7 linked regions of the Homo sapiens genome follow. The protein of the gene in region 6 purifies or fractionates together with the protein of the main gene of each other region. This does not show direct contact. Each region holds a gene or a part of one and is shown on either strand. Other genes may lie near its edges.

Region 1 (4,221 bases), on a different chromosome or scaffold from region 6:
GGAACTGCCTGGGAAGAGCTCCCTGGCCAGGCGTTCCAGGCGCTGGCCATGTTCTGGGGGCACCACATACCAAGTTTTGGGCTCCCCAAGGTGCAGGTAGTTGATGCTGTAAAGGTCCATGTCCTCTGTATGCCAAGCAAACGTGGTTTTCCACATGCCAAAGTACAAGTAGGGTGTATTGACGCCTTCTATGACAACCCCACATTCCTTTTCCAGCAGGTCCTGAATTGTTCCCAGGTGCCCAAGATTCCATTGTTTAGTGTTTTCATCAAACAAGGAGCCACTGATGTCAGCACCATAAATCGGTGAATTATAGATGCGGTTCTTCCAGTATTTTCGCTCCAAATCTTCGAAATTCTGGTGTGGTGGAGTCTGATATTTTTTACTGTTTGCCAAATGGCGATACTCCCCCACAGTCATGGCTTTCTTTTTTTTATGGTATTGAGTAAACACCCCTGCCCGCCCAGAGGCCACCTGCTGGAGGGGAGTGGCTATTAAGATTTCACTGATATTATCATAGGTCTCTCTGGCTTTCCATTCTTTGGGTGGAATTATCTTAGCCAAGCCAGCTCTGTGTGCACCTTGGGATTCCATGTAAGCAATATATTTATCAAAATCATTAAACTCTTCTTTGGTTGGATGAAATATCATTATGTTACAATTTGGATTCTGGGCACAGTTGGCCTTAGACTTCATAGTTTCCATTTAATAAGCAGTAAACTCTTAGTTTTTAGGTATGTTCTAGATAGTTGACAATGTAGGAAAATGCTACTTTAAAAAAAAATTTGACTGGTGTTATCTATGAGGTAGCAGGATCTACCAGCGTACTTTTTTTTTTGCAAATGAGATGATAATCTTTCTTGGGCTTGTTTATTCACTAGTGAGATTCCACTCTGGGCAGCAGCTTTGCCCAGGCATTGACGTTAGCTGATCCTGCAACTCTGTTATGTTTCGGTTGCTGCTGGGCTCTGTCTTCTTAAGTCTATTGAATTACTCAGACCTGGGGGTACGACCCAAATGTAGCAGAGAATGTCCTCAGTGTTTAGAACAAAATCTAAAAGAAAGAATACACAGAGATTAAAAATTGATATTTGGAAAAAATATTAGGCATCCAGAAATTAAATACCAGAATAGAATAATAATATTACAAAGAGAGGCTAAAATTTTATAAGATTGATAATTCAAGTGGAGGTGTGGATGTGGAACAGTGGGAATTTTCATACCCTACTACAGAGAATATGAAGCACTATAATCACTTTGGAAAACTATTTGGACAGTTTCTTCTAAAACTGAACATACATATGTTCTGTGATCCAACTGTTCCACATGCCTAGGAAATGTGTATGGTTGTGAGCTGAAAGTCACATCCAGTAATGTTCATAACAACATTGTTTCTGGTAGCCAAACACTTAAACAACCCAAATGTCCATCAGCAATAGAATGAATAAGTACACTGCAGTATATTCACACAACAGAATACCATATAGCAATGAAGATAAACCAAAGCCACATGAAAATGCAGTTTTATAAAGATCAATATTGAGTAACATTATCAAGACTCAGAAGAATACCTATTACACAATTGCATTTATATAAAGATGAAAAGGAGGCAAAGTAATCTATGTTTGAATTGCTTCTTGGCCTTTTGGCTAAGATCAAGTGTAGTAATCTATGTTTGAAGTCAGAGTAGTGGCTACCTTGGGAAAAGAGGGGTTGTTGTGTAGGGGGGCTTGAGGGGATCTCTTGAGTAAAGTTAATCTGTTCAGAACCTGGGTGCTGGTTTCATACCCATCAGAATAACTCATTGTGTTAACTCATCAAGGTATGATGATTTTCACAAATTTCTGTATGTTCATTTAAAAATAGGGTTTAGGAGGAAAAGCGTTAAAGACAACTAAGAGGCATATTTCATTGTATTAAAAGGAAAAGAAAGAACGACTGAAAATAAACTATACATTCAAGTGATAAAGGCAAATTAGAGTTAAGGGAAAGAAAGAGGAAAGGTACGGAACTAACAAAGAATAAAGATGATGTGTTTCCTTAACTCATACCGTGTGACTTTGCAGTATGTGTCCCCTATCCCTCGCACAACTGGTATCAGCCCTACATGGACCAATCTAGCATGACAGGAATTTTCCCCATAGAGAAGGGCCATTCAAAAGAGATGAAGAAAGCAGATAGTAAGGTTCCATCAGGGTTAGGATTTTTCCAGGCAAGTATACCTCAGTGAGAAAGGGATAAGGTTGTTGATGGGTTGAATGGAGAATGAACCATTATATCTATCCTGGATAAAAAAGGAAATAAGAACTTGAGGGAGGTTCGTGGGCTAGATTTCTCTATTTAGTCAAATAGTCCTGTTAGGACACTAGGAAAGGGAAGCTCAAAAAAGATTGGGATGCTCGAAACAGATTTTTTAAACTAGGGGCAGTTTTTAACTGAGTGCCTATTTTACTGATGTCTTGACATCTTCCTGAGTTTTGACTTTATGCTATTATTCAACTTCAAACTGTTTCTCCCCTCCCACATTCTCTCTCCCAAACTTTCCCTTCTTCGTCAGTTCTTAAGTTCCACTCCTTCCCAAGTAGATGAACTTGACTGTTCATCTTCCTTTACTGTCCCAACAAAACAGCACATCTTCTTTCATATCCTGTAGTTCTCTTGCCACTTATCACTTCTACCTTATATAATGTGAACAGTGTCACTTTTATTTAGCACTTCATTTAGACAGACCCCTTATTAAGCACTTTATAGTATCCTATTCAAAACTCACAACTAATCTATGAAGTTGGTACTATCATTATCCCAATTTTATGAAGGAAGAAACCAAGGTATAGAGAAATTTATAACTAACTCAATAGCTTGTGTTTTCAGTCTCTACAATTATGTCTATCCTTGACTTATCTTCCATATAAAAGTATTGAGAACATAATCTGTGTCTTGTTCACTATTGTGTTTTCCAAGAATATTGGTTTTCTTATATATTGTAGGCACCCAAAACATTTTTATTAATTAAATGAGTTGGCACACACTTCCCTCTGTCACCTATTGATTACACCCCATGTTTCTCACTGTTCTCCGTCCTCTCAGGAGAAAACACTGCTTTCTAGGGCTAATTTCTCCATTTGAACTCCTTAAATCAACATTTCCCACTTGGTCCAGGACTATGTTGAATTAAATAATCAGTTATTTTTCTCTTTATTAAATCATCAGTCATCAATCTCTTTCCTAATTTAAGCTACTGTCCTTACTCCCTCTCTCCCTCCTCTCAGGCTCCTCTCTCTCTCTCTCCCACCCAACCCCAGGTCCTGCCCCCACCTTTCTACTGACATTGTTCTCCATAAATCATCAAACTGCCTCCCAAATTCTGCTCCAGGGGTTACACTTCACTGATTCACAGAACCAGTGGTTCTGTGAACATCTGGTTCACAGAACATCACTGGTTCACAGAACACCTCCCCCTTCCTCCTAAAACTCCTACAACCTCCAGGGCACTGATACTTCTTTTAACACTGGTTCTTTTCTTTCTTCTGGGTTCTACCTCCTCTTCTACCACACACATGCAGACATCTCAAAGTTCAATTTTTATCCCTCTTAACTTTCTTTCTCTCTTAAAATTTCCTATTTATATTCAGGGTTTCTGTTAGTACCATGCTGTTTCCCTTTAAACATGTTATTTATTGTCATAACTTTCTCCAATAACTGACTCTCTCCTAAGCTTCTGCTCTCCTTCTCCAACTTAGATGGCCCAGTGAGCCCCTGAAAGTCAACTGGTTTAATACAAATTGATGATCTTTCTCCTGAAACTAAGTTACTCCTTTATATGTCTTTTATTTCTATCAAGGGCAATAATGTGTTATCGTAGTCACCACTGACTATTACATCTCCCTTTTCCCAGACATATGGTCAGTGCCTGTCAGAGGATCCAATGATAGTCTTCCATGAGGCCCCAAGGACATCTAGACACCCCAGGGTGTGTTCTCTTTATCTTCCTTATAGAAGAACCCAAGAATCCAGCTTGTCTTCCTCTCCTACTTAAAGCTGTCACTACTCAAGCGAGACACTGAGGATGTACAAGTGACAAGATTACCTGTATCATATGATAGTCTCCCAATCTCATCCCAATTTTTTAATCTTAAAAATTATTCTACAATGATTTTATTATAAATTCTTTATATTTTTGGAATATAAAATAAAATATTTCATTCTTTCTATTAGAAAACT
Region 2 (4,803 bases), on a different chromosome or scaffold from region 6:
TAGCTGGAACTGCAGCCCAAGTGGATTCTAGAACAGCCTATCTGCAGTGACACACACACACACATATATGCACAAACCAACCCTGACAGCAGTGGATCCTTGGAGCTATGTTTGCGGTCTGTGAGGAGCATGGAGGTGACTCCAAGGGCAATCCTTAGAATTTACTGAAATACATAGGCAGGGGTTTGGCTCCACATGGAACCCATATGCACCTACAAGGTCCACTTACTTAAGAAGCCTGAAGGCTCTTGTGCTGGGGGAGCCACAGAGAGCAGGCTCCAAGAAGGGTGGACATGATCTAACAAGGCAGATAGAATAGGTCCAGAACTAGCTGTGCTCAAGACCTGCAGGTAAGGCCTGGGGAGTCCAAAATCCAGGGCAAAGGGCTGATGGGTACTCAGGAGGTAACAGACAGACCCAGAGAGAAGTGGACAGGACCCAGCCTAACAGCTTGCTCCTGGGAGTGGGGACAGCTGGAACCTTACCTGCAGGAAGCATTTAATGATGAAACCCACCTCAACCTGGACCCAGGGCTGGGCTGGAGGTTGGTCCAACCCTCTTGGGCTTCCGTCCACACAGGAGGCTCCGTTCACTATCCAAGACTGGGTAGACCAAGTGATCCAATTTCTAGCGTTTCCCCAGGGACCAACCTTATCCATCATCCACCCAAGTATGAGATCTGTGTGTGTTAGTGGGGACAACCAACCGAGAGGAGCTGCCCAGGGACCAGAGCCAAGGGTCTGCCCCACAGGCTCAGTTGCAGAGAATCAGGACGGCAAGCAGAAGCCTCAGGGGCATATTTGAGACCTTGCTGCTCCCCCTCTCCCCCTCAAGCTGGAACCCCCAAGAAGGCGGGTTGTGACCTGCAAGAAGGCTCTGCCAGGACTCCCAAACAGGCAGGGCAGAAATGTGCCTGCTGCAGCCCCCCTAGCGACCTGGGGGGTGGGGGGCGAGGTGGGGTCGCGAAGAGGAAACAGACCTGACAGTCACATTGGAGGAGCCAGTGCAACGCGACCCATCTGGGACCTGGGCATCCGGTGAGGGCACTCACTGCTCACACTGGCCCCCCACACAAATTCAAAGGCAGAGGGAAGGAGAGCTGTTCCCATGGTTTATCTGCTACCGCGACCCAGTGCATCAGAACAAGCTGGTCCAGGCCCTAGGATCCGGAGGAGGCAGGAGCAGCCACCACCCCTTCTCAACTCTGACCCTGAGGAGGCCACTCGAACGACGACCACCGCCTTCCCCTTCCTCCGCTCGGGGGAAGGGAAAAGACTCAGGGCGGAGGGTGGGGATTGGGGCGGGACTTGAAATTGAAGTGCGAGAGTCTATTGGTCATTGGAGCTGCCCATCAGGAGTGCAACTCGGGAGCGGATTGGCCGCGTGAGGCGGGGCACGGCGCGACGAAAAAAGGGGCCCAAGGGGTGGGGCTGACGCTGCAGCTGGCGCAGCTCAGGATTAGAGCAGCGGAGCCGCCTAGCAGCCACCTTCCCCCGCCAGTCCGCGCGCCCGGGCCGGGGCTAGGCCCCCCACCGCCGGGTCCCCCGGGGCTGCAGTAGCAGCGGCGCCGCCCGCGGCTCCCGCTGGGGCCTGGGCGCCGGCCCCGCTCTGCAGGATGGGCACAGTGCTGTCTCTTTCGCCTGCCTCCTCGGCCAAGGGCCGGAGGCCCGGCGGGCTGCCCGAGGAGAAGAAGAAGGCGCCGCCCGCGGGGGACGAGGCGCTGGGGGGCTACGGGGCGCCGCCAGTGGGCAAGGGCGGCAAAGGCGAGAGCCGACTCAAGCGGCCGTCCGTGCTCATCTCGGCGCTCACCTGGAAGCGCCTGGTGGCCGCGTCCGCCAAGAAGAAGAAAGGCAGCAAGAAGGTGACACCCAAGCCGGCATCCACGGGCCCCGACCCCCTGGTCCAGCAACGCAACCGCGAGAACCTTCTCCGCAAGGGCCGGGATCCCCCCGACGGCGGCGGCACCGCCAAGCCCCTGGCGGTGCCAGTGCCCACCGTGCCCGCGGCTGCCGCCACCTGCGAGCCACCGTCGGGGGGCAGCGCGGCCGCTCAGCCGCCGGGCTCGGGCGGGGGAAAGCCTCCGCCGCCGCCTCCCCCAGCCCCGCAGGTGGCGCCGCCGGTGCCTGGCGGCTCGCCGCGGCGGGTCATCGTGCAGGCGTCCACCGGCGAGCTGCTGCGCTGTCTGGGCGACTTCGTGTGCCGACGCTGCTATCGCCTCAAGGAGCTGAGCCCGGGCGAGCTGGTGGGCTGGTTCCGCGGTGTGGACCGCTCGCTGCTGCTGCAGGGCTGGCAAGACCAGGCCTTCATTACGCCTGCAAACCTGGTGTTCGTGTACCTGCTGTGCCGCGAGTCGCTGCGTGGGGACGAGCTGGCGTCGGCCGCCGAGCTGCAGGCCGCCTTCCTCACCTGCCTCTACCTCGCCTACTCCTACATGGGCAACGAGATCTCCTACCCACTCAAGCCCTTCCTCGTGGAGCCCGACAAGGAGCGCTTCTGGCAGCGCTGCCTGCGCCTCATCCAGCGGCTCAGCCCGCAGATGCTGCGGCTCAACGCCGACCCCCACTTCTTCACGCAGGTCTTTCAAGACCTCAAGAACGAGGGCGAGGCCGCCGCCAGCGGCGGGGGCCCACCGAGCGGGGGCGCGCCCGCCGCCTCCTCGGCCGCCAGGGACAGCTGCGCGGCCGGAACCAAGCACTGGACTATGAACCTGGACCGCTAGGGATACCCAGGGGCCGCGCCCATCCCCCGCCCCAGCCCCTGACACACACTCGGACCCCCCGGGACCACAAAGCCACCGCCGCTGTTACCGCCGCTCAGCGCCCCGGCTGGGCGGAGGAGGAGACGCCCATGCCCCTCAGGGGAAAGTGGAGACCGGGACACCAGAGGCCGCGGTGTTTGGATTTGCTGGGCGTGGAGTGGGGACGGAAGATGAGCGCGGGAAAGGCACTCCAACCTCACTCTTCCCGTCTGTCTGCGCCCCCATTTCTCCATTTCTGCCGGGGTCTCCCCCTTCCCTTCAGCCCATTCCCCCTCGGTTTTATCCATTTCCTTGCCTCCTTTTTGTGTCTTCATTTTTCCTCCTGTCTGCATTCCTCTCTCTCTCTCTCCCTCTCTCTCCTGTTCCTCTCTTTCTTCCTCCCTCTCCCTGCCTTTCCATTTTCCGTTCCTTGGGTTTGTGTGTCTGCATCTCCATCTTACCCCTTGCCTGACTGTACCCCGTAGACCCCTGTTTCTCCTCCTGCACCTGTGTCCCCATCTGCCCTTCTTGTTGCTCCTGTCATGTGTCACCATCTTCCCTCCTGTCTGCCTTCTTCCTCCACTTGTGTCAGCTTGCATTTTTTTATTCCTGACTGAGTCACCACACCCCTCTCCCCTGATCAAAGGGAATATTAGTTTTTAATTTGGATCGACTGAGGTGCCAGGAGAAACTGCAGTCCCAGGTATCCAGACAGCCACCAGGATGGTCCCTCGCCCCACCCCCACCGCCTCTCCCCACCTTTTCCAACGTGTTGCATGCTGGGAGCTGGGGGGTGTGGGGGAAGGGGCTGCCGGCTTCTTTCAGGAGGCTGAGGTTTGGAGGCAAAATCAACCTGGGAGACCACCCCGGCCGCGGCGCCTCAGTGGACAGGTGGGAGGAAAAGAAAACTTCTTACCTTGGAGGAGGGACATCCCGCTTCCTTATCCTTAGCTTTTTTGTTGCTCCTCCCCACTGCCCCTTTTAATTTATTTGGTTGTTTGCGGAGGGAGGGGGGAGGGGGGTAGGCTGGGCCGGGAACTGTCCGAGGTGCTGAGCTGGGGCGGGACCGGAATCCTCCCGGTAGGGTACCAGGGACTGAGTTGGGCCTGGGGCCGTGTCCAAGGTGCCAATGATGCGGGCCGACAGAGCGGGCCGCACTGTCTGTCTGTCCGTCTGTCCCGGAAAGAACTATAAAGCGCTGGAAGCGCCTGCAGATGGTTTTGCGCCGGTCTTTCTTTGGGCCCCGGGAGGGAGGGAGTGGGAGTGGTAATGGAACTGTCACAGACAGAGCAGAAAGGCAAGAGATGGGGCTCTAGTAGGGGAGATCAAGTACCTGAGAACTTCTCCTCCTCCCCATCCCCACCCCCGCCATCGGCTTCCATTTTACAGAGAGTAAAGAGTAAAGCGAGGCAGCTGAGGGTGAGGCCTGGTGATAAAGCTGAATCCATCCCCCCACTTCCGCCTCCATCTTGTCTGACCTAGCTCCTCATTAATGCCCGGGCCACTTAGAGACCGAATCATGGGGACAGCGGAGTTGTGCCCTTTCTGTGATGAGACCCATTGAGGCAGAACTAGCTAGTCCTTATTGCTATTTTTCCCTTCCTCCCCATCTCTCCCCACCATATATCGGTCAAGAGTACAGTCGGGCCTAAGTCTGTGTTCACCACTCCCAAGTGGGGCCTGTCTGCCATACTTCTCTCCTCATCCCCCAACCACCATGGGGCTGCTTCGACGATGCCCAGGTCGCACGCCCACTCAGGAGTCTTGGGGGGTCCATCCCTGCTTGAGACTCAGACCCTTGCCCTTTATCCCCAAGAAGGGGCAAACAAGGGCAGTTGGGGAGAAGGAAGCCATTCTCTGGGATTGAAACAGGAAGGAAAATGCGCTATTTAGCCTGAGATCCCTGCTCGGTCCCCATTGCCTTCTTAGCCACGTGGCTAAGCGCCCTGTTCACTGTTTCATTGGCCCAAAGAGGCCTGGCTTCAACAGAGTGCCCGCGGCTCCGACCCTAGTCTGGCCGTGGCCGAGAAGATCCGGAAAGAACCCGGGGGGACCTGCCAAGACGA
Region 3 (4,221 bases), on a different chromosome or scaffold from region 6:
TCAGAGTCCAAGGCAAGACACAGATGCTGCCAATAACAAGGGGAATTGGGTATGGCTGCTGGGATGACAACCAATGGTTGTCTGTGCCAGTCACATAAAACAATGTAACAATGTGGAAATTAAGAAATATTCTCCTAAATTTAGATTATTTCTGGATCAGAAAGAAACAAAAACTGAGATTATTGTAAGATGGTCTCTTTATTTCATCATTTTCTGTTACTTTCTTCTTTCACTGCCTGGATGTTTGGTAGACTTGAATAGCATGTTTAGTGCATATGAGTTTATCTTTCAGATTTTCATGTATATGCATGCATTCAAAGGCTATAAAAATTCCTCCAGTGTAGCTTTGGCTTTCCCCTTACCCTCACATCTCTTTGGCCACATTTCACATCTCTTGGCATGTTAAACTCTCAATTCATTCTTTTCATTACCATTTATGGTAATTGCATGATTTCTTTGTTAAGCAAATGATAATCTGGCTGTTTTTTTAACTTGTAAGAAAACTATAACTTTTGCTCTTGATAAAATTACTACACTGTGGTTAGAAAATGTGGTTCTGGAATGTGTTAGAAATAAAATTTCTCCCAACCTTTCCCAGCATTTTTGACAATTATGATCTGAACAATTTACATCCATAAAATTTTCTTTGATATGAATTTTCAGACTTAGGATAAAGGCTTACCTCTGAATGAAGGCATTGTCACTGGCATTACATTCTTCAAGTCTTTCTCCAAGAGGGAGAAGTAAGTCACAGTCACAATTAGCCTAGGCTAATGGGCTTTCCCCATTACTTCCATTCATATGGTTGCTTGCCAACATAAATTCTCTGATGATTAGTAAGGGGTAACTGCTGATGGAAGGCTTTTCTACATTTATTATATTCACATGTGTTTCTCTATTATGCATTCTCTGAGGTTGAACGGTAGTTGAATCATGACTCAAGGTCTTCTCACATTCCTTATATTCATAGGGCTTTTTCTCAGTGTGAATAACCTGATGATGAATCAATTGTGAGCAATGACTAAAAGCCTTCCCACATTCCTTACATTCATATGGCTTTTCACCTGTATGAATTCTGTAATGTACAGTAAGATGTGAGACCCGTTTGAAGGCCCTACCACATACCTTACATTGGTAGGGTTTCTCTCCAGTGTGAATTCTCTGATGTTGCTTGAGTTGTGAGCTCACTCTAAAGGCCTTTCCACATACTTTGCACTCATAGGGTTTCTCACCGGTATGAATTCTCTGATGTCGTATAAGAGTTGAGCCTTGATTAAAAGCCTTCCCACATTCCTTACATTCATAGAGTTTCCTGCCAGTATGAACAGTCTGATGTTGAATCAACTGAGAACGATGACTAAAGGTTTTCCCACATTCCTTGCATGCATAGGGTTTTTCACCAGTATGAATTCTATAATGTACTTTAAGATGTGAGATCCGATTGAAGGCCTTGCCACATTCCTTACACTGATAGGGTTTCTCGCCTGTGTGAGTTCGCTGATGTTCAATCAACTGTGAGCTTCGACTAAAGGCCTTCTCACAATCTTTACATTCATACGGTTTCTCACCAGTATGAACTCTCTGATGTTGTATAAAATTTGAACCAGAATTGAAGGCCTTTCCACATTCCTTACATTCATATGGTTTCTTACCAGAATGAATATTCTCATGTTGAATTAGTCGTGAGCCATATTTAAAGGCCTTCCCACATTCCTTACATTTATAGGGTTTCTCATTAGTATAAATTCCTTGATGATTAATAAGGAGTTCCTTTTGCCAGAAGTCTTTTCTACATTTATTATACCCAAAAGGTTTTTCTCTAGTATGAATTTTCTGATAAAAAGTAAGGGATGCATGCTGGTCAAAAGTGGGCATTTCTTCATGTCTGATGATCATCTGATGGAAATGTCTGTCTGGATTTCCCTGTTGTCTGTCAAACTGGTTTCTGCATTCCCAATCATCTTGGAAACTTGAACACTCAAGACCATAACTTGTAAGGCTTTCCATTATCTCCCATTGGGGTGATTCGACTTCATAAACATGCTGCTTTGGAAATAATTCCTTGGTATCATATCTGGACTCCAATACTAAGAATGAAAAAAAGCGAATATGTTTGGCTTCTTTTTTTTTCCAGATAAAGGAACTAAAATAAGAACTGGAGGGTTTAGACTCAATGCCTATTAACTCTTGAATGTAGCTAAGCAATTATAAAATGGACAAGTAGAACAGTGAAAGGAAAATAACATACATGAGATGAGGGAGGCAATAAGAGAGGTTATAAAAGTGATTCTAAAATGTTAGTGTGGGGCTGGGCATGGTGGCTCATGCCTGTAATCCCAGTGCTTTGGGAAGCCAAGAAGGGAGAATCACTTGAGGCCAGGAGTTTGAGACCAGCTTCAGCAACACAGCAAGACCCCATGTCTACAAAATAATTTTTAAAAATTAGCCAGCTGCAGTGGCACATGCCTGTAGTCCCAGCTGAGAAAAGAAGACTGCTTAAGCCCAGGAGTTAGAGGCTGTAGAGAGCTATGATCACGCCAATGCACTCCAACTTGGGTGACAGAGGGAGACTTTAAAAAAAAAAAAAAAAGAGTTGGTGTGGGTCAGAATCACTATTGAACAATATTTTTTAAGACAGTAAATGTTTCTGTGAGACTCTAGAAAAGACAAATATAGAGTGACAGAAACCAAAGCAAATCATTGGTTTGACGGACTGTGCAGGAGGGAGCACAAGGGAACTTTTTGGGTTGATGGAAATGTTCGCTATCTTGATTGAGGTGATGGTTATGTGGGTGTATAAATTTGTCAACACTCATTAATAGCACATTTTAAAAATGCATTTTATTGACCATAAATTATGCCCCCAAAAGAGTGAATTTTAAAAAGATGATGGGGATTTCAAGATGAAAAGAGTTCCGGAGATGGACGGTGATGATGGTTGTACAACAGTGTGAATGTACTTAACACTACTGAACTGTACACTTGAAAATGGTGAGCACGGTAAATCTTGTATTTTACCACAGTTTTAAAAAATAAAAATAAAAGTGGTGTTGGAAGTGTGTGGTTGGATCTGCAACCTGCCTCAGTGCCTGGAGGACATGCAGGAGAATGAACCAGAGGAATATGCTGGTACAGTGGCAGCTATTCTCATGTGTCCGCTAGAAGTTAGAATGACATGGCTGCTGTCTTCCTCTGTGAAGCTTTTTATATCTGAAGTTTAGCTGAACACCATGGTGTTTTTTATATCTGAAGTTTAGTTGAACGCCATGGCTGAAGCCCATTATCAACTGAATGACATTTCTTAAATTTCTTAAATGTCATGCATTTACCTGAACCTTTTCATTTCTTAAAGGTGACCTTGGAAAAAGAAGGGCTTTTTTCCTTGTTTAGAGGATTAGGCCAGTTGATTGAGGGTGGGTCCTTCTAGAGCAACATACTTTGCTGATTATTCAAACTGCATGAAAAAGCTGAATGCTATAATGGACTGTGATTCTACCTGGTACATTATTTCAGCTACAGTGGCAGGTTTTACTGTACTTATAGCAACCAACCCCAGTTGACTTAAAGAGACTCAGATATAGCTTGACTACAGGTGGGCACCACCATGCTCAGCTAATTTTTGTGCTTTTTTGTAAAGATGGGGTTTCGCCATATTGCCCAGGCTGGTCTCAAACTCCTGGGCTCAAGCAATCCGCCTGCCTTGGCCTCCCAAAGTGCTGGGATTACAGGCGTGAGCCACCATCCCCAGCCTCAAAGTACTTTTTGCTGAGAATTTGATTCTGTCCTAATTTGCTGAATCATACATCATAGATTCAAGGTGATGTGCTAACAAGGATATCATTTTTAAATGTTGCCATGAAGTTCAAATGCACCTTTTCATACTTTAAATTGATATATGTATATAACCCTTAAACGTTTATGTTCATGATAATTCTGTTGAGACTTCTGGCTAAGGATGTTGCTATACTGGTATATAAAATGTGCACAATTAAACTCCAGTGTGATACTACTCATTTCAGTATATATGAGTGCTGTATTTTGTGCAGTAGCTTTATCTTAATATGGCTCTTTGTGAATGCACTTTATAGCATTTATTGAGGGTGAAAGAGCAGGAGGGAATTCTATGTTACGTATTTCTATAAAAACATTGGTCATTTATTCAACAGAACCAGTATTCCTAACATTTGTCTGGGTTTTAGATATGTTGTTCTGCAGATCTAT
Region 4 (4,221 bases), on a different chromosome or scaffold from region 6:
GCTGGAGGGCTGACTCTGAGAGACATATTAAACTTTGGGGTCCTCCTCAATCCCTTCTTCCCTGGTTAGGGAGAATGAAATGTACATTCTGCAAGTTAATATTAAAGTGCTATGGTCAGCATGTTTATATGAAAACCAGTGATAGAATTGCTGTTAACTCCCGGCCAAACCAAAGCCCAGGACGCCTGGTCTCTCCTCCTGGCCGGGCTTGCAGCTGCCTGTGCTGTCCACCTGCCGCTATGCCCCCGCCTTCACCACCAGCACCTCCCAGCGGTCCCAGGACACCCATAGAGGGATCAACTCTGATTGCAGATATAATGACTTCCTGCACGGGGGGCAACATGTCATTCAATTACATTAGGGAGGTGAGGCCAGGTGGGGAAGCGCACCATAATCATCACTCATGATCATTTCCTCTCCTCTTCTGAGCTTTCATCCGAGTACCACCTAACTCCAGGTGATCGATACCTGAGCACCCTCCTCACCTTTGTGGGCGTGCTGGAAGGGAGACAGGGTGCTGCTGCCCGAGGTGCCAGGGAAGTTGGCAGAAGCTCCTGAAGTGGCTCCCACACCTGCAAGGAAAATAGAGTCCCTCAAATGATCCAGAGAAGCTCCACCTTCAAAGACGCTGCCACAGAGCTCATGGATCTGGATTCATGATCATGAATGGGCCTGAGGCAGTGATGGCTGAGGGGAGCTAAATATTTGTATTTCTTAGACTGTTTAATGAACCCTAAAGAGTCATCGTTATTGTTCTTTTTTTTTTTTTTTGGTGAGACGGAGTCTTGCTCTGTTGCCCAGGCTACAGTGCAGTGGCGTGATCTCGGCTCACTGCAAGCTCTGCCTCCCTGGTTGACGCCATTCTCCTGTCTCAGCCTCCCAAGTAACTGGGACTACAGGCACCCACCACCACACCTGGCTAATTTTTTTGTATTTTTAGTAGAGACGGGGTTTCACCATGTTAGCCAGGATGGGCTCGATCTCCTGACCTTGTGATCTGCCCGCCTCGGCCTCCCAAAGTGCTGGGATTACAGGCATGAGCCACCGCGCCCGGCTGGTTATTGTTCTTTAAATGAAAACACTCATGTGATAAGTCTGCTAAAACTAAACAGTGTGGGTTGGGGAGTTTTGCAAGCCTCACCAACTCAATTTTCCTATGCGTGGAGACAAAGTATATGAAATCCATAAAAATAAGCAACATAGAGTGTGTACATGAAAGTACTATTAGGGTGATACAATACTTGACTAATTCCTTCAATTACATAGAGTAGGAATGTGTTAATACTTTTTCCAGTCATAAAAGTAATATATGCTCACTATTAAAAATCTGGAAAAGGGGGCCAGGCATGGTGGCTCACGCCTGTAATCCCAGCACTTTGGGATTGTTGTTCAGCATCAGTTTGAAATAATAGCTTCTTGATTTATACATATAAATATTGTTGTGGGAAGGAGGCTGGTGATAAAAGTGTATGCGATAGCTATCTTTACGTAGTATGGGTATGAGTTCTTCTTGTTAGAAGGACAAGAGGTGGCGGATCACGAGGTCAGGAGATCAAGATCATCCTGGCTAACACAGGGAAACCCCGTCTCTACTAAAAATACAAAAAATTAGCCGGGCGTGGTGGCAGGCGCCTGTAGTCCCAGCTACTCGGGAGGCTGAGGCAGGAGAATGGCGTGAACCCAGGAGGCGGAGCTTGCAGTGAGCTGAGATTGCGCCACTGCACTCCAGCCTGGGTGACACAGTGCGATTCCGTCTCAAAAAAAAAAAAAAAAAATCTAGAAAAGGGGCCGGGCGCGGTAGCTCATGCCTATAATCCCAGCACTTTGGGAGGCCAAGGTGGGTGGATCACTTGAGGTCAGGAGTTCAAGACTAGCCTGGCCAACCTGGTGAAACCGCATCTCTACTGAATACAAAAAATTAGCCAGGCATGATGGCGCATGCCTGTAATCCCAGCTACTTAGGAGGCTGAGGTAGGAGAATCGCTTGAACCCGGGAGGTGGAGGTTGCAGTGAGCCGAGATCACACCACTGCACTCTAGCCTGGGCAACAAACGTGAAACTTTGTCTCAAAAAAAAATAAAATAAAAATAAAATAAAAATAAAAATCTGGAAAAATAAGAACACAAGAAAGGAGGAAAAGAACTACCCATGGCCTCCTTGGCTAAGTGGACTTTTGCTGTATTTCTGCCTAGGATTTTTCCTCAGACATGTTTTTACATGGTTGTGACCAAAGAGTTTCAGAGCAAGGTGTGCTTTGCCTTCCCTTAAAGCTATGCTTCCCACAACTCCCCTTCTATGGAAAAAGTGTGACTTAGCGGGGATAAAATGGAAGCTGATTTTGCTCTCAGTCAAATCACTAAGACGCAACCATTCAGCCAAAACAAAAACATTCCACCACAGAAGAGACCACGTCCTGTTCCAGACCTCCTAAAAGAAGATCAACCTTCTTTTGGGCCAGACTTCAGTTTTGCAAATAATAAAGCCAACATGCTTCAAATGCATCTCCCACTCTCTCACTTTTGTCTCTACCAGTTCTGGAGAAATCCGTGAAGTGCACTTGGTCTACAGAAAAGCAGCCCCTGAGTCAAGGACAAGGCCAGCTGCCATCCCCAAATCAAGGTACCTCCCCAGCCTGGCCCAGCCCAGTGGAATGGCCCAGCACTGTGCCTGGTCAGCCCATGCAGCAAGGCTTCCGGGAGAAGCAAGCTTCCTAGTTGGACTGTTTTTCTGTTTTGTTTGAGACAAGGTCTCACTCTGTCACCCAGGCTGGAGTGCAGTGGCACGATCTTGGCTCACTGCAACCTCTGCCTCCTGGGCTCAAGTGATCCTCCCACCTCAGCCTCCTGAGATGCTGGGAGTACAGGTGTGTGCCACCACACCTACTTTTTGTATTTTTTATAGAGAAAAATGCACGTTGGCCAGGCTGGTCTTGAACTCCTGACCTCAAGTGATCCACCTGCCTTGGCCTCCCAAAGTGCTGGGATTACAGGTGTGAGCCTGTAATCCATGCCTGGGCTGGCTGTTTTCTTTAGTAGGAAGTTCTCAGGAGAAACGCACACTCTTGTTCTGTGAGTGGGGGCAGCCCAGGAGCTAGTGACCAGCTGAGCTATCCACTCGTGTCTGCTCTAAATGGAGCAGGGCCACAGGAGAATGGGCTGGATGCTTCTCTGTCCTCACACCTTGTAAAGCAAATTGGAAGCTTGGCCAATGAAACATTGGGCTTGGGAGGGACCAGGGCAGCTATGTCATAGGGTATGTAAGAAACATCACCTGTCCACTGAGGGGCAAATGATGTTTCCTTGTGTTTCTGGATGATGAATGGAGGCTTTTTTCCTCGTGGGCCTCAAACTTATGATAAATCTTTGCTTTCTTAATTTAGCCTCTTACTTGGCCTCAGAACCAGTGTTCTTATTAGGGAAAGAGCTGCCCAGGCACGGTGGCTCATGCCTATAATCCCAGCACTTTGGGAGGCCGAGGCGGGAGGATCACCTAAGAGGAGTTTGAGACCACCCTGGCCAACATGGTGAAACCCCAACTCTACTAAAAGTACAAAAATTAGCTGGGCCTGGTGGCAGGTGCCTGTAATCCCAGCTACTGGGGAGGCTGAGGCAAGAGAATCGCTGGAACCCGGGAGGCGGAGGTTGCAGTGAGTCGAGACCACGCCATTGCACTCCATGCTGGGCAACAAGAGCGAAACTCCATCTCAAAAAAAAAATAAAAAATAAATAAAAATAAAAAAAGAGCTGGTGGAGAAGTGCGTGCCCCTAGCTGAAAGCCACAAGCCCATGTCAAACAACAGAGCGTTCCCCCTCACAGACCTTACTGAAGTTGCTCTGGAAGTCTCCAGTGTGATAAGGAGGCTTCAGATTGTGTGCCCATTTCTGTTTGCTGGGGGGTAGCCTCCCACACTTCATCAGGTGAGTGAGCATAGGGGCATCATGGCATAGTTTCCAGCATGACCTAATTTCCTTTATAAGAGCAAACAAGAGATTGAAAAGAAGCTGATCTATCTGTTCAGTAAGGCGCTCAAGGGAGCTTAAGATACACTGTCAGAGCAAAAGAACAGCCGTGGGCTGTCTGTGAATGTTTGTCATCTTCGCCTCTTCTTGTCCCTTCCTGTCGGGGCTCGCAGGCTGCTTCAGGTGACAGGGTTGGGGATGGGGACACAAATATGCCCAGGCCTGTGGTCTAGAGTGGGGCAATAAACGCAGCCTAGAGAGC
Region 5 (4,221 bases), on a different chromosome or scaffold from region 6:
ATTTTTTGTATTTTTAGTAGAGATGGGGTTTCACCATATCAGCCAGGATGGTCTCAATCTCCTGACCTTGTGATCCGCCCGCCTTGGCCTCCCAAAGTGCTGGGATTACAGGCGTGAGCACTGCGCCCGGCCAGGAGACAGCTCTTCAGGAAAAAAAAAAAAAAAAAAGTAATGCTGGAAACTGCTGAAAGTGATTATTAGAAATGCATGGTTTGGCCGGGCATGCATCTCTAGTCAGGAGTTCGAGACCAGCCTGGCCAACATGGTGAAACCCCATCTCTACTAAAAATACAAAAATATTAGCTGGGCGTGGTGGAGCGCACCTGTAATCTCAGCTACTAGGGAGGCTAAGGCAGGAGAATTTCTTGAACCCAGGAGGCAGAGGTTGCAGTGAGCCAAGATCGTGCCACTGAACTCCAACCTGGGCAACAGCCAGACTGTGTCTCAAAAAAAAAAGGAATGCATGGTTTATTACAGCCAGTTAAATGTCTTGAGGTAAAAAGTTATTGCTTATACATTTATATGTCAAGTGGAACTGCACTTAACTGCAGTGGGATTCAGGACGAGTTAGATGAGCAAGGAGATTTCCTACTACAATCCTGTGAGGCAGGCAGCGACCCGCCACAGGGCGCCAGCCTGCGTGTGTCCCACAGAGCAGGCACTCTGTGCAAGGACAGAAGTTCTGCTGTCCTAAGTGAGCAGCCTCCCCTGGATCTCCTGTAGCTGCAGCTGAAAGGTCTGTACCAGCTATAACAACTGTGTGATGAGATTCTCCCATAGAAAATGCCAAGATGGAAACAAGAAAAAAAGGCCAGCCCCAAAGGAAGGCTTTCTCAGCAACCTTGGCCCTAGGGTATATGAGAACAAGACAGGACAGAATCACTGCTCTCCACCATCTCTGCAGCTGGCAGTTACCAGTGTCAGAAAATTCTCTCTTCTGGCTGGGACCACCAGCCCCACACAGACCCACCTCCTAACGGCCCATGCTGGCAGGAGGGGCAGAGCCCCTGCCCCTCCACCCCCAACCATCCCTAGCAACTGGCTTTTGTCTCCTCACCACTCCCCACAGTCTTGCACCCTGACTCAGGTGTCGCTATAGGGCGCTATTTCCTGGTCCTTCCGGAATAAGGTCATTAGGAGGGACCGATCCCACCTTTTATTCAGGAGGCTGCTAGCACCAGTCCTCCCTGCGGCCTTGCCAAGAGGAGAGTGCTGAAAGGGTGCATCCTCTGTGCTCGGGCTGACTTCACCGTCACCTGGTTTCTTCTCCTTCAGGGAAAAGGGTTTCTTATTGGGGCCTGTGGACATAGGAGGCAGAAAAGAGTTTATGCAATCACAGATCACCTGGAACTGGATTTTTTCACTCTGTTTCTAAGAAAGTAATATTATTTTCATTGTCACAGGAGGTTAGAGAAGAGCCCAAGGAAATAACTGTGAGATGCAAATCCACTGAGAGCCAGCCTCCTCCACTGGCTGGGGAAAGGGCTCACGCTCAAAGGGTTTGGACCAAGAGCATGAGAAACTGAAAAGAGGGCCATGCACAATGGCTCATGCCTGTAATCCCAAGATCAGACTGGGCAACATAGCGAGATCTCATCTCTATAAAATAAATAAAAATAATTTTTTTAAAAAGTGAAAAGAATAATTGAAAACTCACTTATTTTCTTCCTGTGCCAAAAGATAGCCATGTCTTTATGCAAACTTTTCCCCTTCTTTCTAGCCAGGGCTGCAGATGCCTGGAAAACAGTCCACAACCGCCATGTGTGAGTATATCAGGAAACCAAAGGAAATGGGATTGAAAACTCAAATGCAGTAAGCACAACAGACCATTCAAAGGCACCAGGAGCTCCTGTCCTTTGCACGACAGTGATTTCTCCACCCACACGTCTGCTAACTGCATGGTCTCTGGCTGCGGCAGCAGCAGTATTCATCTCCCTTACCTGTCTCACAAGCATGTATTTGCTCTTTCCCCCTTTTTTTTTTTGAGACAGAGTCTCGCTCTGTCAGCCAGGCTGGAGTGCGGTGGTGAGATCTCAGCTTACTGCAATCTCCACCTTCAGGGTTCATGCATTCTCCTGCCTCAGCCTCCTGAGCAGCTGGGACTACAGGCGCCCGCCACCACATCCGGCTAATTTTTTGTATTTGTAGTAGAGACGGGGTTTCACCGTGTTAGCCAGGATGGTCTTGATCTCCTGACCTCAGGTGATCCGCCCACCTTGGCCTCCCAAAGTGCTGGGATTACAGGCGTGAGCCACCGCGCCCGGCCCCTTTTTTTTAATTAACAACTTTGCTTCATAGAACTCACAAACTTGGCCTTGTTGGCATTTGGTGAGATGATTCTCACCAGCTGATCACACATACAGAGACAGAAAGTTTGCGAAGTCACAATTAAGCACAAAAGGGAGCTGCAGAATAACACACATGGGATGCCACTTACCACAGAAAACACACACAAAACCAACCACGTTAGTCTCCGTGTAGATACACTCATAAAAATGTCTAAAAAAATACACATCACACTAGTTAACTGGACTGCTCCTGAGTAACAGGAGAGATGAGGATATTCAGTTTTGTCTGTATCAATGAATTGTTTATAAAGGCAGTCTATTTACATATTAGTTATGTCATAAAATATTTAAGGTTCAGCTGGGAAAATAAGCACATTGCAACAGGCAAAAAATAACTGTAAAAACAAAAGGGGGTTGGGCATGGTGGCTCATGCCCGTTATCCTAGCACTTTGGGAGGTGGAGGTGGGAGGATCACTTGTGCCCAGGAATTTAGGACCAGCCTGGGCCACATAGTGAAACTTCATCTCAAAAAAATAAATAAATAATAAAATAACAATAAAATAAATAGTAGTAATAAATAATAAAAACAAGGCCAGGCATGGTGGCTCACGCCTGTAATCCCAGCACTTTGGGAGGCCAAGGTGCGTGGAACACTGAGGTCAGGAGTTCGAGACCAGCCTGGCCAACGTGGTGAAACCCCCTCTCCACTAAAACTACAAAAATTAGCCAGGCATGGTGGTGCACACACAATCCCAGCTACTTGGGAGGCTGAGGGAGGAGAATCGCTTGAACTGGAAAGGTAAAGGTTGAAGTGAGCCAAGATTGCGCCACTACAATACAGGCTGGGAGACAGAGCAAGGCCCCGTCTCAAAAACAACAACAACAAAAATGAGAGCCGGTACAATGACTCAGGTCTGTAATCCCAACATTTTGGGAGGCTAAGGCAGGAGGACAGCTTGAGGACCGGAGTTCGAGACCTGCCTGAGCAACACAGTAAGACCCCATCTATACAAATGTAAAAATACAAACTTTTTTTAATTAAAAAAATTAAAACTAAAAACAAATTAGGATTACCATATGACCCAGCAATTCCAATCCTAAGAATATACCCCAAAAAACTGAAAGCAGGGACTCAAATAAGTCATATGCCAATGAACATTATTCACAATAGCCAAAAAGTAGAAACAACCCGCGTCTGCCAACAGACGAATCAACAAAACGTAGTCCATCCACTCAATGTAGTATCATTCACTTTATAAATTTATACTTTATAAATTCCTATAGAACGTAATTTTGTCTATGAGAATACTCAGAAAAAATAGTGACGATATAAAGCTATATAACATAAGCAGTCCACGTTCACTGCACCCTAGAAAGTATTATGCATACATTTAGGCTGGGCGCAGTGGCTCACGCCTGTAATCCCAGCACTTTGGGAGGCCGAGGCAGGCAGATCGTGAGGTCAGGAGATCGAGACCATCCTGGCTGACACAGTGAAAGCCCGTATCTACTAAAAATACAAAAAAATTAGCCGGGTGTGGTGGCGGGCGCCTGTAGTTCCAGCTACTCCGGAGGCTGAGGCAGGAGAATGGCGTGAACCCGGGAAGTGGAGCTTGCAGTGAGCCGAGATCATGCCACGGCACTCCAGCCTGGGTGACAGAGCAAGACTCCATCTCAAAAAAATAAATAAATAAATAAAAAGAAAGTATTATGCATACATTTAAAGTCAGGATACAAACCCAGTGCTTCAAAGCAGTTATCTCTAGAGGACAGACTGACAAGGGGAATTTCACTTTTTTTCTTTTTCTTTTTTTTGAGACGGAGTCTGGCTCTGTCTCCCAGACTGGAGTGCAGTGGCACGAACTCGGCTCACTGCAACCGCCGCCTCCCGGATTCAAGCAATTCTCCTGCCTCAGCCTCCCGAGTAGCTGA
Region 6 (4,221 bases):
GGAAGAAGAAGGCTGGGAGAAATGCTGGTTCCCAAAGTGGTCAGTACCAAGGCCACCTAGTCCAACCCTTGCCCCTAGGCCTGTGGTTCCTTTGGGGCAGATTCCAGTCTCGCCACCACCCAGCCAGGGGAGTCTGTGTTGAATGGGACATGTTCTGGAAGTATGAAAGGCTCAGCCCTCTGAGCTGCTGGATGGCTCTGTCCTGTACCCGCCAGTCCATAAATGGTCAGCGGAGCACATGACCCACCTACCCGAGCCAAAGGAGTTGGGAAAAATCTGTCTGGGTGGCCCCCTCATCCTCTCAACACACAGGCCTAGAGGGAAAAGGGTACTGTCTAATGCCAGTCAGTGCTGTCCTGAGCTCAGCTGCTAAGAATAGCAGGGAGTGAGGTGGTGGTAACCAGCAGGACTCAGGCAGAACAGAGGCCCATTACACACCTGGCTGCCCACAGGGTGCCACCACCTGCTCTTCCACCTTTAATGCCAGTTCTTACCCCACTCATCCACACAGACAGAAAGCTCTGGAAGGGGACAAAGGTTGGACAAGCACCCTGACAAAGTAGCCACTACCCAGGCTCAGGGATCACATATTCCCCAGTGTAAGCCACTCCCAGCCCTGAGCTGTAGGAGCAGAGATGCACAAAGGCCCCTCCCCACTGCTGCTCTGTCCCAGGCCAAGGCCAGGTGGTGGCTATGCAGTCGGGGTGCTCAGCTAGTAGCATAGAAGGCTAAAGCCAACCCCATCTCTGAATACCCCAGTGGGCCCAAGGATAAAGGAGCCTTCCTCAAAAGCAGTTACAGGCCAAGCATGGTGGCTCACACCTGTAGTCTCAGCACTTTGGGAGGCTGAGGTGGGAGAATCACTTGAGCCCAGGGGTTTGAGACCAGCCTGGGTGACACAGTAAGACCCTGTCTCTTAAAAAAAAAAAATTAGCTGGGTGCTGTGGCATGTGCTTGTGGTCCCAGCTATGTGGGAGGCTGAGGTGGGAGGATTCCTTGAGCCTGGGACTTTGAGGTTGCAGTGAGCTATGACTGTGACATAGCGAGACCCTGTCTCAAAAGAAAACAGTTCTTAACAAGCCCACACTTGGAGCAGCTACTCTTGTACCTGACCCCAAAAGTCGTGTGCCTGATCCTGAGAGCAGACTGCACATATCTGTGGGCAGTCGGCCTGAGACAGCCACCACTGAGTGCCTACAGCACTGCCCATTTGGCCAAGACCAGCAACTTCCCTGACCTTTTTGGATCTCCTAGGTCCCAGTTCAGGGCCCTGAATACCCACAACCACTGACTGACAGCCCTACCACCTGCTGTCTCTCCTGGCGGCCACAGCAGCAGCAGCAGCAGTAGGACCATCTCTGGTATCACATGAGGTAGGGATCAGATGGCTCTGAGAACAGGCCAGGACTGAGTATGGGGTGGGGGTGGGCAGGAACTCTCTGCAAGCAGGCACTTTCTGACCACCACAGTTGCTTAAATAGAACAGGTAACGTTGCTGCCTTTTGGACCTGCCTAAAGGGCAGAAGTCGTAAAAGACAGAACAGCTAAGGCTGATGAGGGGGTGAGAGACAGGGACAACCGTGCCTCACTGCAGGGAGGGAGAACCTACTTGATCCTTTGAAGAAGTAATCTGGCAACAGTCTTAAAAGTGACTGCAGTTCAAACACTCTAGCCACACGACTCCAGCCCTGGGCATCCTCACAGCATTGTTTACAAAAGCAAAAGTCCTTCCAAACTAGGGCACTGGTATGGGCCACAGCAGACCCCCTGGCCCTAAAGATGCTCAGTAAGATAAATTGATAATGGGGAAAAATACTCACGGGATAACATTTGATGATAAAAATAGGATGCAAACTTCTATAGACTTTTGGAAGTGAGGGACATGTCCATTACCTTGATGGTAGTGATGGTTTCACGGGTTTTATATATATGTTAACACTTATCAAATTGTACACTTTAAGTATGTGTAGTTTATTGTATATTAATCATAGCTCAATAAAAACGTTTTAAGAAAAGAACTGAAGGTGATAAATTTTTTTAAAGTTTTCTATACAGCATAATCTGAACTACATACATTATAAGATAAACAGACATGAAGTTAAAAAGCTTCTGCATAGCAAAGTAAACGATCAACAAAGTGAAGAGACAGCCCACAAATGGGAGAAAATATTTGTAAACTACCCATCTGACAAGGGATTAATAACCAGAATATACAAAGAACGCAAACAACTCTATAGGAAAAAAACTAATAATTCCATCAAAAGATGGGCAAAAGATACGAACAGACATTTCTCAAAAGAAGACATACGAATGGTAAACAGGCATATGGAAAGGCATTCAACGTCACTGGTCATCAGAGAAATGCAAATCAAAACTACGAGATATCATCTCACACCAGCTAAAATGGCTTTTATCCAAAAGACAGGCAATAACAAATGCTGGCGAGGTTGTGGAACCCCTGTATGCTGTTAGTGGGAATGTAAATTATAATAGTGCAATCACTATCGAGAACAGTTTGGAGGTTCCTCAAAAAACTAAAAATTGGTCAGGTGCGGTGGCTCATGCCTGTAATCTCAGCACTTTGGGACGTCGAGGTGGGAGGATCACCTGAGGCTAGGAGTTCGAGACCAGCCTGGCCAACATGGCGAAACCCCATCTCTACTAAAAATACCAAAATTAACTGGGTGTGGTGGTTTGTGCCTGTAATCCCAGCTACTCGGGAGGCTGAGGCAGGAGAATTACTAGAACTTGGGAGGCAGAGGTTGCAGTGAGCCAAGATCATGCCACTGCACTCCAGGCTGGGCAACAAGAGCAAAACTCCATCTCAAAAAAAAAAAAAAAAAAAAAAAAAAGGCCAGGCACACTGGCTCACGCCTGTAATCCCAGCACTTTGGGAGGCCGAGGTGGGCGGATCACGAGCTCAGGAGATCAAGACCATCCTGGCTAACACGGTGAAACCCCGTCTCTACTAAAAATGCAAAAAATTAGCTGGGCATGGTGGCGGGCACCTGCAGTCCCAGCTACTTGGGAGGCTGAGGCAGAAGAATGGCATGAACCTGGGAGGCGGAGCTTGCAGTGAGCTGAGATTGTGCCCCTGCACTCCAGCCTGGGCAACAGAGCAAGACTCCGTCTCAAAAAAAAAAATTTTTCAAAAAAAAAAAAACTAAACTAAAAATTGAGCTACCATATGATCCAGCAACCCCACTGCTGGGTATATACCTGAAAGAAGGGAAATCAGTATATCAAAGAGATATCTGCATTCCCATGTTTGTTGCAGCACTGTTCACAATAGCCAAGATTTGGAAGCAATCTAAGTGTCCATCAACAGATGAATAAATAAAGAAAACATGGTACATATACACAACGGAGTACTATTCGGCCATAAAAAAGAATGAGATCCTGTAATATGCAACAACATGGATGGAACTGGAGGTCATTATGTTAAATGAAATAAGCCAGGCAGAAAAAGACAAACATTGCATGTTATCACTTATTTGTGACAGCTAAAAATTAAAACAATTGAACTCATAGAGGCAAAGTACTGGATGGTTACCAGAGGCTTGGAAGGGTAGTATAGGGCTTGTGGGGAGATGGGGATGGCTAATGCGTACAAAAAAATTGAATTAATGAGACCTATCTGGTAGCAGAACAGAGTGACTATAGTAAATAATAATTGTACATTTAAAAATAACTAAAAGAGTATAACTAGATTGTTTATAAGACAAAAGATAAATGCTTGAGGGGATGGATACCCCATTTACCATGATGTGATTATTACGCATTGCATGCCTGTATCAAAGTATCTCATGTACCCTATAAATATATATACCTACTACATACCCACAAAAATTAAAAATTAAAAATGTAACACAAAGAAAGAAACAGAAAAGAATCACATTTGAATAGTCATGTTAAAATAACAAGATAGCAGGTGCTTTTCCTTCTTTTTTTAGAGACAGGGTCTTGCTCTGTCACCCAGGCTACAGTGCAGTGGCATGCAGAGGCCAACTCACTGCAGCCTCAACCTCCTAGGCTCAAGTGATCCTCCCACATCAGCCTCCCTAACAGCTGGGACTACAGGTGCACACCACCATGCCCAGGTAATTTCTGTATTTTATTGTAGAGATGGGGTCTTGCCATGTTGCTCAGGCTGGTCTTGAACTCCTGGACTCAAGCAATCTACCCACCTTGGCCTCCCAAAGTGCTGGGATTACAGGTGTG
Region 7 (4,221 bases), on a different chromosome or scaffold from region 6:
TTAAGAGAAAAATTTAAGCACTGTTAAAATAAATGAATTAAACATTTTTTATTTACCAGCAACAATGATACACAACATAACTCTATAAACCCATATCATTTTAATATCTAAAGCAGCAAACCCACAGTTTTCTTTAAAATTAACAGAGGGTCCAAGCTATTTCTACTTAACCTGAACATTTTGCCTTGGACATTCTAATAGAATTTAAATATTTCTATAGCATTCCCAACTTTTAAAATTACGCAACCAAAAACACTCAAAAGAAACAAATGTTAAGCCTTAATTTAACAGTCACCTAGGCTAGGTTTGCACCTTAAGTTCCCCACCCCCACACCCCCCCCCGTCCCTCCCCCACAGCCGCCTGCCCACCCAAGTGAACCAGGGAGTCAATAAGCTCCTCATCTAGACAACTGATGCAATTTCAATAAGCACTTATGTTCATAATTGGTTTGTGTCCCCAGGAGGACTTCTGTGACTCCACTTACATAACCCATTACGCACAGTGCTGCACTATTCTTTCTCTAGAAAGCATTTTGAATACTGATATTTGTACAAGGTTTACTTGCTGTATTAATAAAAAGGCTTTTCTTGCTCTATCTTTCCTGCAGAAGAAGTGAAATGGAAAGCCAATTTCTGCTGCTTCACTATGTCAAAGGCGAGTTATTTATCTTGTTGGCTAATCAACAGAGTAATAACTTAAAGCAGCACCCCCAGGCAGCGCCCACAGTTCAACAGTTTTCTCCAGAGGCTCTGGTTGAGAAACACAGTCTTAAACAAGTAATTTAGAGCTACTTGTGTGAACTCAACTGAAAACAGTCTGAACTGCTCCTTGAAATATGTTATAAGTATTGACTGTGAATCTTGACAAAATTAAATTCAATGGTGGCGAGAATCACAATACGTCCTCTGTAGGCTAACACAAGGGCAGAATGTACCCCAAACCTTCTTTAATATGCATAAATATGTGGATGAATAGTCTCCTCCAATCCCTCAGATTCTGTTTAAGCCAAGATTTTCGGATTTCACAGAACCATAATCTTTAAAAAGGGGCACGAGGAAGGAGAGGGTGACCAGCATAGGGCTGCCAACTTTTATTCTGCCAAGGACATTTAAAAAACAAAAACAAAAACTACCGATTACCCATCACCACTATTTCATAAAAGAACTAAGCGCCCATCGAAAATGGCAAAAGATAATTTTAGAAAAACATATCAATAGATTTAGCTTTAAAGAAGCCAACTACATTCTCCTTTCACTCAAAGGAAAACTCTGTCATGAACTGACACTACTCCACAGTCCAGCACTTCGGGAGCCACAAGCTTAAGTGGCTAGCTCCCACTGAGAAAAGGAAAGTGATGATACGTAATGCCCAAACCAAATATTAACCTATTCAATAATGAGGAAATGTAAGCTTAGAGAAGTTTAGGGACTCTCCCAAGGTTGAATACCAAGGATTTTGACACGGGTCTATCTAATTCTAGAGTCAGAGGTCCCAGCCATTATCCTAAGTTTCCTCTAATATTCTTCCAGTGGTATAACAATCCACCCTCATCTAGTCACCTTTGTGACCAATGACAACCAAGGAATTTCCAAGACAGCTGGAGGGAGTGAGGGGTGTACTCCCTGGCCATCATTTAGACTGAAGCTAAATGGAACTCCTGACCTTTGCCTCATTAATACCAGGCTTACTGAAACTAAGCCAAACAGCCCAGACAAAGCACACACAAAACCCCCTGCCTCCAACAACACTGACACAGGACTCTTTCGACATTCCCAAGTGCCTGTGATATAGTGGAAAACATATTCCTGAAAAACAAAAGGAATGTATTAATTCTCAAGAAGGAAATAAACACTTCCATGGTAACTCAGTCTAAAAATAATAAACTTGCCCTCAAAAAGTTACAACTCTAAGCCTCATTCTGCAAACTATTATAATCTTTTACACATTAATACTCAAGTTCCCCCTATTTAAATACCTAAACAGAAAACCACACAAAATTCTATAAATTTACAGTTCTTAAACAGTTTCCAAAATAAAATATGTAACTTTCATATGTGTTATCATATAATGGATAAAAGTATCTTATTCTATCCCTCTAATATAATCCAAACATTATAAGCCAAAACTAATCATGTTAATCAAAAGAACTTATAAAATAGAGTTGGAAGAAAAATATGTAATCAAATGCCATTTTCTATAAAAAGCAATATTAACAGCCTTAATGAGATGTAAATATTATCTTTGAATATTCAGAGGTTCTTGATTTTGAAACCAAAATCGATGTCATACACATAAATAAGTGAAATACTGTATCAGAGATTTGCTTCCAACTCCTCACATACCACTTGCCAAACAAATGTCCAAAAGAAACAAGCTAACATAGCTTTTAAGTAACCAAATCTGACACTCTGGATGAAATGAGTCTGAAGTAGTTTGTCCTCCCTGAAACAGGGTAAAGATAGCATAGTATTCTTGCTACCCAGGGCAAGAAAACTGTATTTCCCAATTGGATTTTTAATGATCAGATTCTTTCTACTCCGTGTGAACCTACAGTGTGAAGAAGCAGTGGACATACTATCAAATTCTTTACCCACTGCATAAAATAAATCACTTAGCATATTTCCTTCTGTTTTAAACAGATGCCATTTAAAACAGAAGTTTTTTTTTTCTTTCCCCTCTACATTCTCCCTTGGCACTTTCATCTTCTTACACAGATTCAACCAGTACACCTATTTGTATTATTCACTAAACCCATGTTTAATATATGCCTAGTCCTGACCTCTCCCCTTAACCACAAATCCACATTTCCAAAAGCCTTTGGACATTTCCAGCGTTTGGCAAGTATACAAAAAAGTCAACAAATCCAAAACTGATCTCATTACGTACCTCCTTGCCCGTATTTCTAGTAAGAGTACCACCGTCAACATCTCCGACACTTAAAAAGTGTAATCTTCAGCTGGGCGCAGTGGCTCACACCTGTAATCCCAGCACTTTGGGAGGCTGAGGCAGGCGGATCACGAGGTCAAGAGATCGAGACCATCCTGGTCAACATGGTGAAACCCCGTCTCTACTAAAAATACAAAAGTTAGCTGGGCGTGGTGGTGAGCACCTGTAGTCCCAGCTATTCGGGAAGATGAAGCAGGACAATCACTTGAACCCAGGAGGCGGAGGTTGCAGTGAGCCAAGATCACGCCACCGCACTCCAGCCTGGCAACAAAGCTAGACTCTGTCTCAAAAACAAAAGTGTAATCTTCACCTTCCATCTCCTCCAAACCTGCTCCAAAAACCCCTCCTCCTCGCCACCCACCTACGACATTGAGGTCCTGCAGAGCCTTCACTCTAATTCCATTACCACTGCCCTTGCCCAGTATTTATACTACATTGAAAGTCAGCTTTCCACATCAAATCATTCTGCACACTACTCTATTAGACCTTGGTAACTTCTCATTACCTCCCAAACGTCGAACTTTTTTTCCCCAAATGTCAAACTTCTAAAAGCAGCACTTAAACATGCTCCACAATCCTGCCCCCACTTAAAATTCAAACCTCATCTCTAATTCCCAAAAATGAACAGTATATTCCAGGTAATCTGGTCCACTAACTTTTCTCCAAGTACACAATGAACTTTCCCACCTCCACACTTCTGCTCACATCATTCTCTTTATTTGAAAGGCCTTCTTCACCCACCTACTCCCAATCCATAAATCTTTGTCTTAGAAAAGTCTTATTCTCTGTAACATTAAACTCAGGTTACCAGTTTATTGGGGAGCAACATGATGCAGTAGAAACACACAGGCTTTGGCACCAGACAGATTTGGATTCAAATTGGGGCTGTTACATGCTAGCCACATAGCCCAGGCAAGTAACTTAACATATTTGAGCCTCACTGTCCTCATTATTAAGGTACTTACATATTGCTGTGAAGCTAAGAAAATGCTGTAAACAGCAACTAGCATTAAGTCTGTTCAGTAAATGCTCAATAAACAGTAGCTTCTGAGCTATCTCCACAAATTTCCATTACTTAAGCTAAAAATGAACCCTTTCTTCTTTTGTATAATTTACTCCAAACTTTACCTCAAACCACCCATAAGTATTTACAAATGTTTATGTTGTAAATGTTTACACAAATCTTATATCCCCTTCTAGATTTCAAATTCCTAAAAACCAAAAGTTTAATCTTTATATCCTAAAATGCCTAGTATAGCGCTTTTCATGAAGCA

Evidence for each region.
Region 1: the proteins of RNF123 (region 6) and KDM4D purify together in Homo sapiens (affinity purification with mass spectrometry, with the first as the bait; one large-scale study listed by BioGRID). This does not show direct contact.
Region 2: the proteins of RNF123 (region 6) and CDK5R2 purify together in Homo sapiens (affinity purification with mass spectrometry, with the first as the bait; one large-scale study listed by BioGRID). This does not show direct contact.
Region 3: the proteins of RNF123 (region 6) and ZNF582 purify together in Homo sapiens (affinity purification with mass spectrometry, with the first as the bait; one large-scale study listed by BioGRID). This does not show direct contact.
Region 4: the proteins of RNF123 (region 6) and EDAR purify together in Homo sapiens (affinity purification with mass spectrometry, with the first as the bait; one large-scale study listed by BioGRID). This does not show direct contact.
Region 5: the proteins of RNF123 (region 6) and MCM3AP purify together in Homo sapiens (affinity purification with mass spectrometry, with the first as the bait; one large-scale study listed by BioGRID). This does not show direct contact.
Region 7: the proteins of RNF123 (region 6) and FRS2 purify together in Homo sapiens (affinity purification with mass spectrometry, with the first as the bait; one large-scale study listed by BioGRID). This does not show direct contact.

What each region holds. Positions count from the first base shown.
Region 1 is NC_000011.10:94,993,857-94,998,077, reverse strand, and holds part of KDM4D (lysine-specific demethylase 4D), read right to left. Parts: intron 1,055-4,221; 5' UTR 706-1,054; coding exon 1-705. UniProt on the Homo sapiens protein: Histone demethylase that specifically demethylates 'Lys-9' of histone H3, thereby playing a central role in histone code. Does not demethylate histone H3 'Lys-4', H3 'Lys-27', H3 'Lys-36' nor H4 'Lys-20'.
Region 2 is NC_000002.12:218,958,206-218,963,008, forward strand, and holds CDK5R2 (cyclin-dependent kinase 5 activator 2), read left to right. Parts: upstream 1-1,460; 5' UTR 1,461-1,615; coding exon 1,616-2,719; 3' UTR 2,720-3,950; downstream 3,951-4,803. UniProt on the Homo sapiens protein: Activator of CDK5/TPKII.
Region 3 is NC_000019.10:56,383,098-56,387,318, forward strand, and holds part of ZNF582 (zinc finger protein 582), read right to left. Parts: intron 2,088-4,221; coding exon 766-2,087; 3' UTR 1-765. UniProt on the Homo sapiens protein: May be involved in transcriptional regulation.
Region 4 is NC_000002.12:108,912,193-108,916,413, forward strand, and holds part of EDAR (tumor necrosis factor receptor superfamily member EDAR precursor), read right to left. Parts: intron 573-4,221; coding exon 486-572; intron 1-485. UniProt on the Homo sapiens protein: Receptor for EDA isoform A1, but not for EDA isoform A2. Mediates the activation of NF-kappa-B and JNK. May promote caspase-independent cell death.
Region 5 is NC_000021.9:46,278,840-46,283,060, forward strand, and holds part of MCM3AP (germinal-center associated nuclear protein), read right to left. Parts: intron 1,737-4,221; coding exon 1,658-1,736; intron 1,299-1,657; coding exon 1,154-1,298; intron 1-1,153.
Region 6 is NC_000003.12:49,691,979-49,696,199, reverse strand, and holds part of RNF123 (E3 ubiquitin-protein ligase RNF123), read right to left. Parts: intron 1-4,221. UniProt on the Homo sapiens protein: Catalytic subunit of the KPC complex that acts as E3 ubiquitin-protein ligase. Promotes the ubiquitination and proteasome-mediated degradation of CDKN1B which is the cyclin-dependent kinase inhibitor at the G0-G1 transition of the cell cycle.
Region 7 is NC_000012.12:69,472,875-69,477,095, reverse strand, and holds part of FRS2 (fibroblast growth factor receptor substrate 2), read right to left. Parts: exon of another isoform or gene 2,888-4,221; intron 1-2,887. UniProt on the Homo sapiens protein: Adapter protein that links activated FGR and NGF receptors to downstream signaling pathways.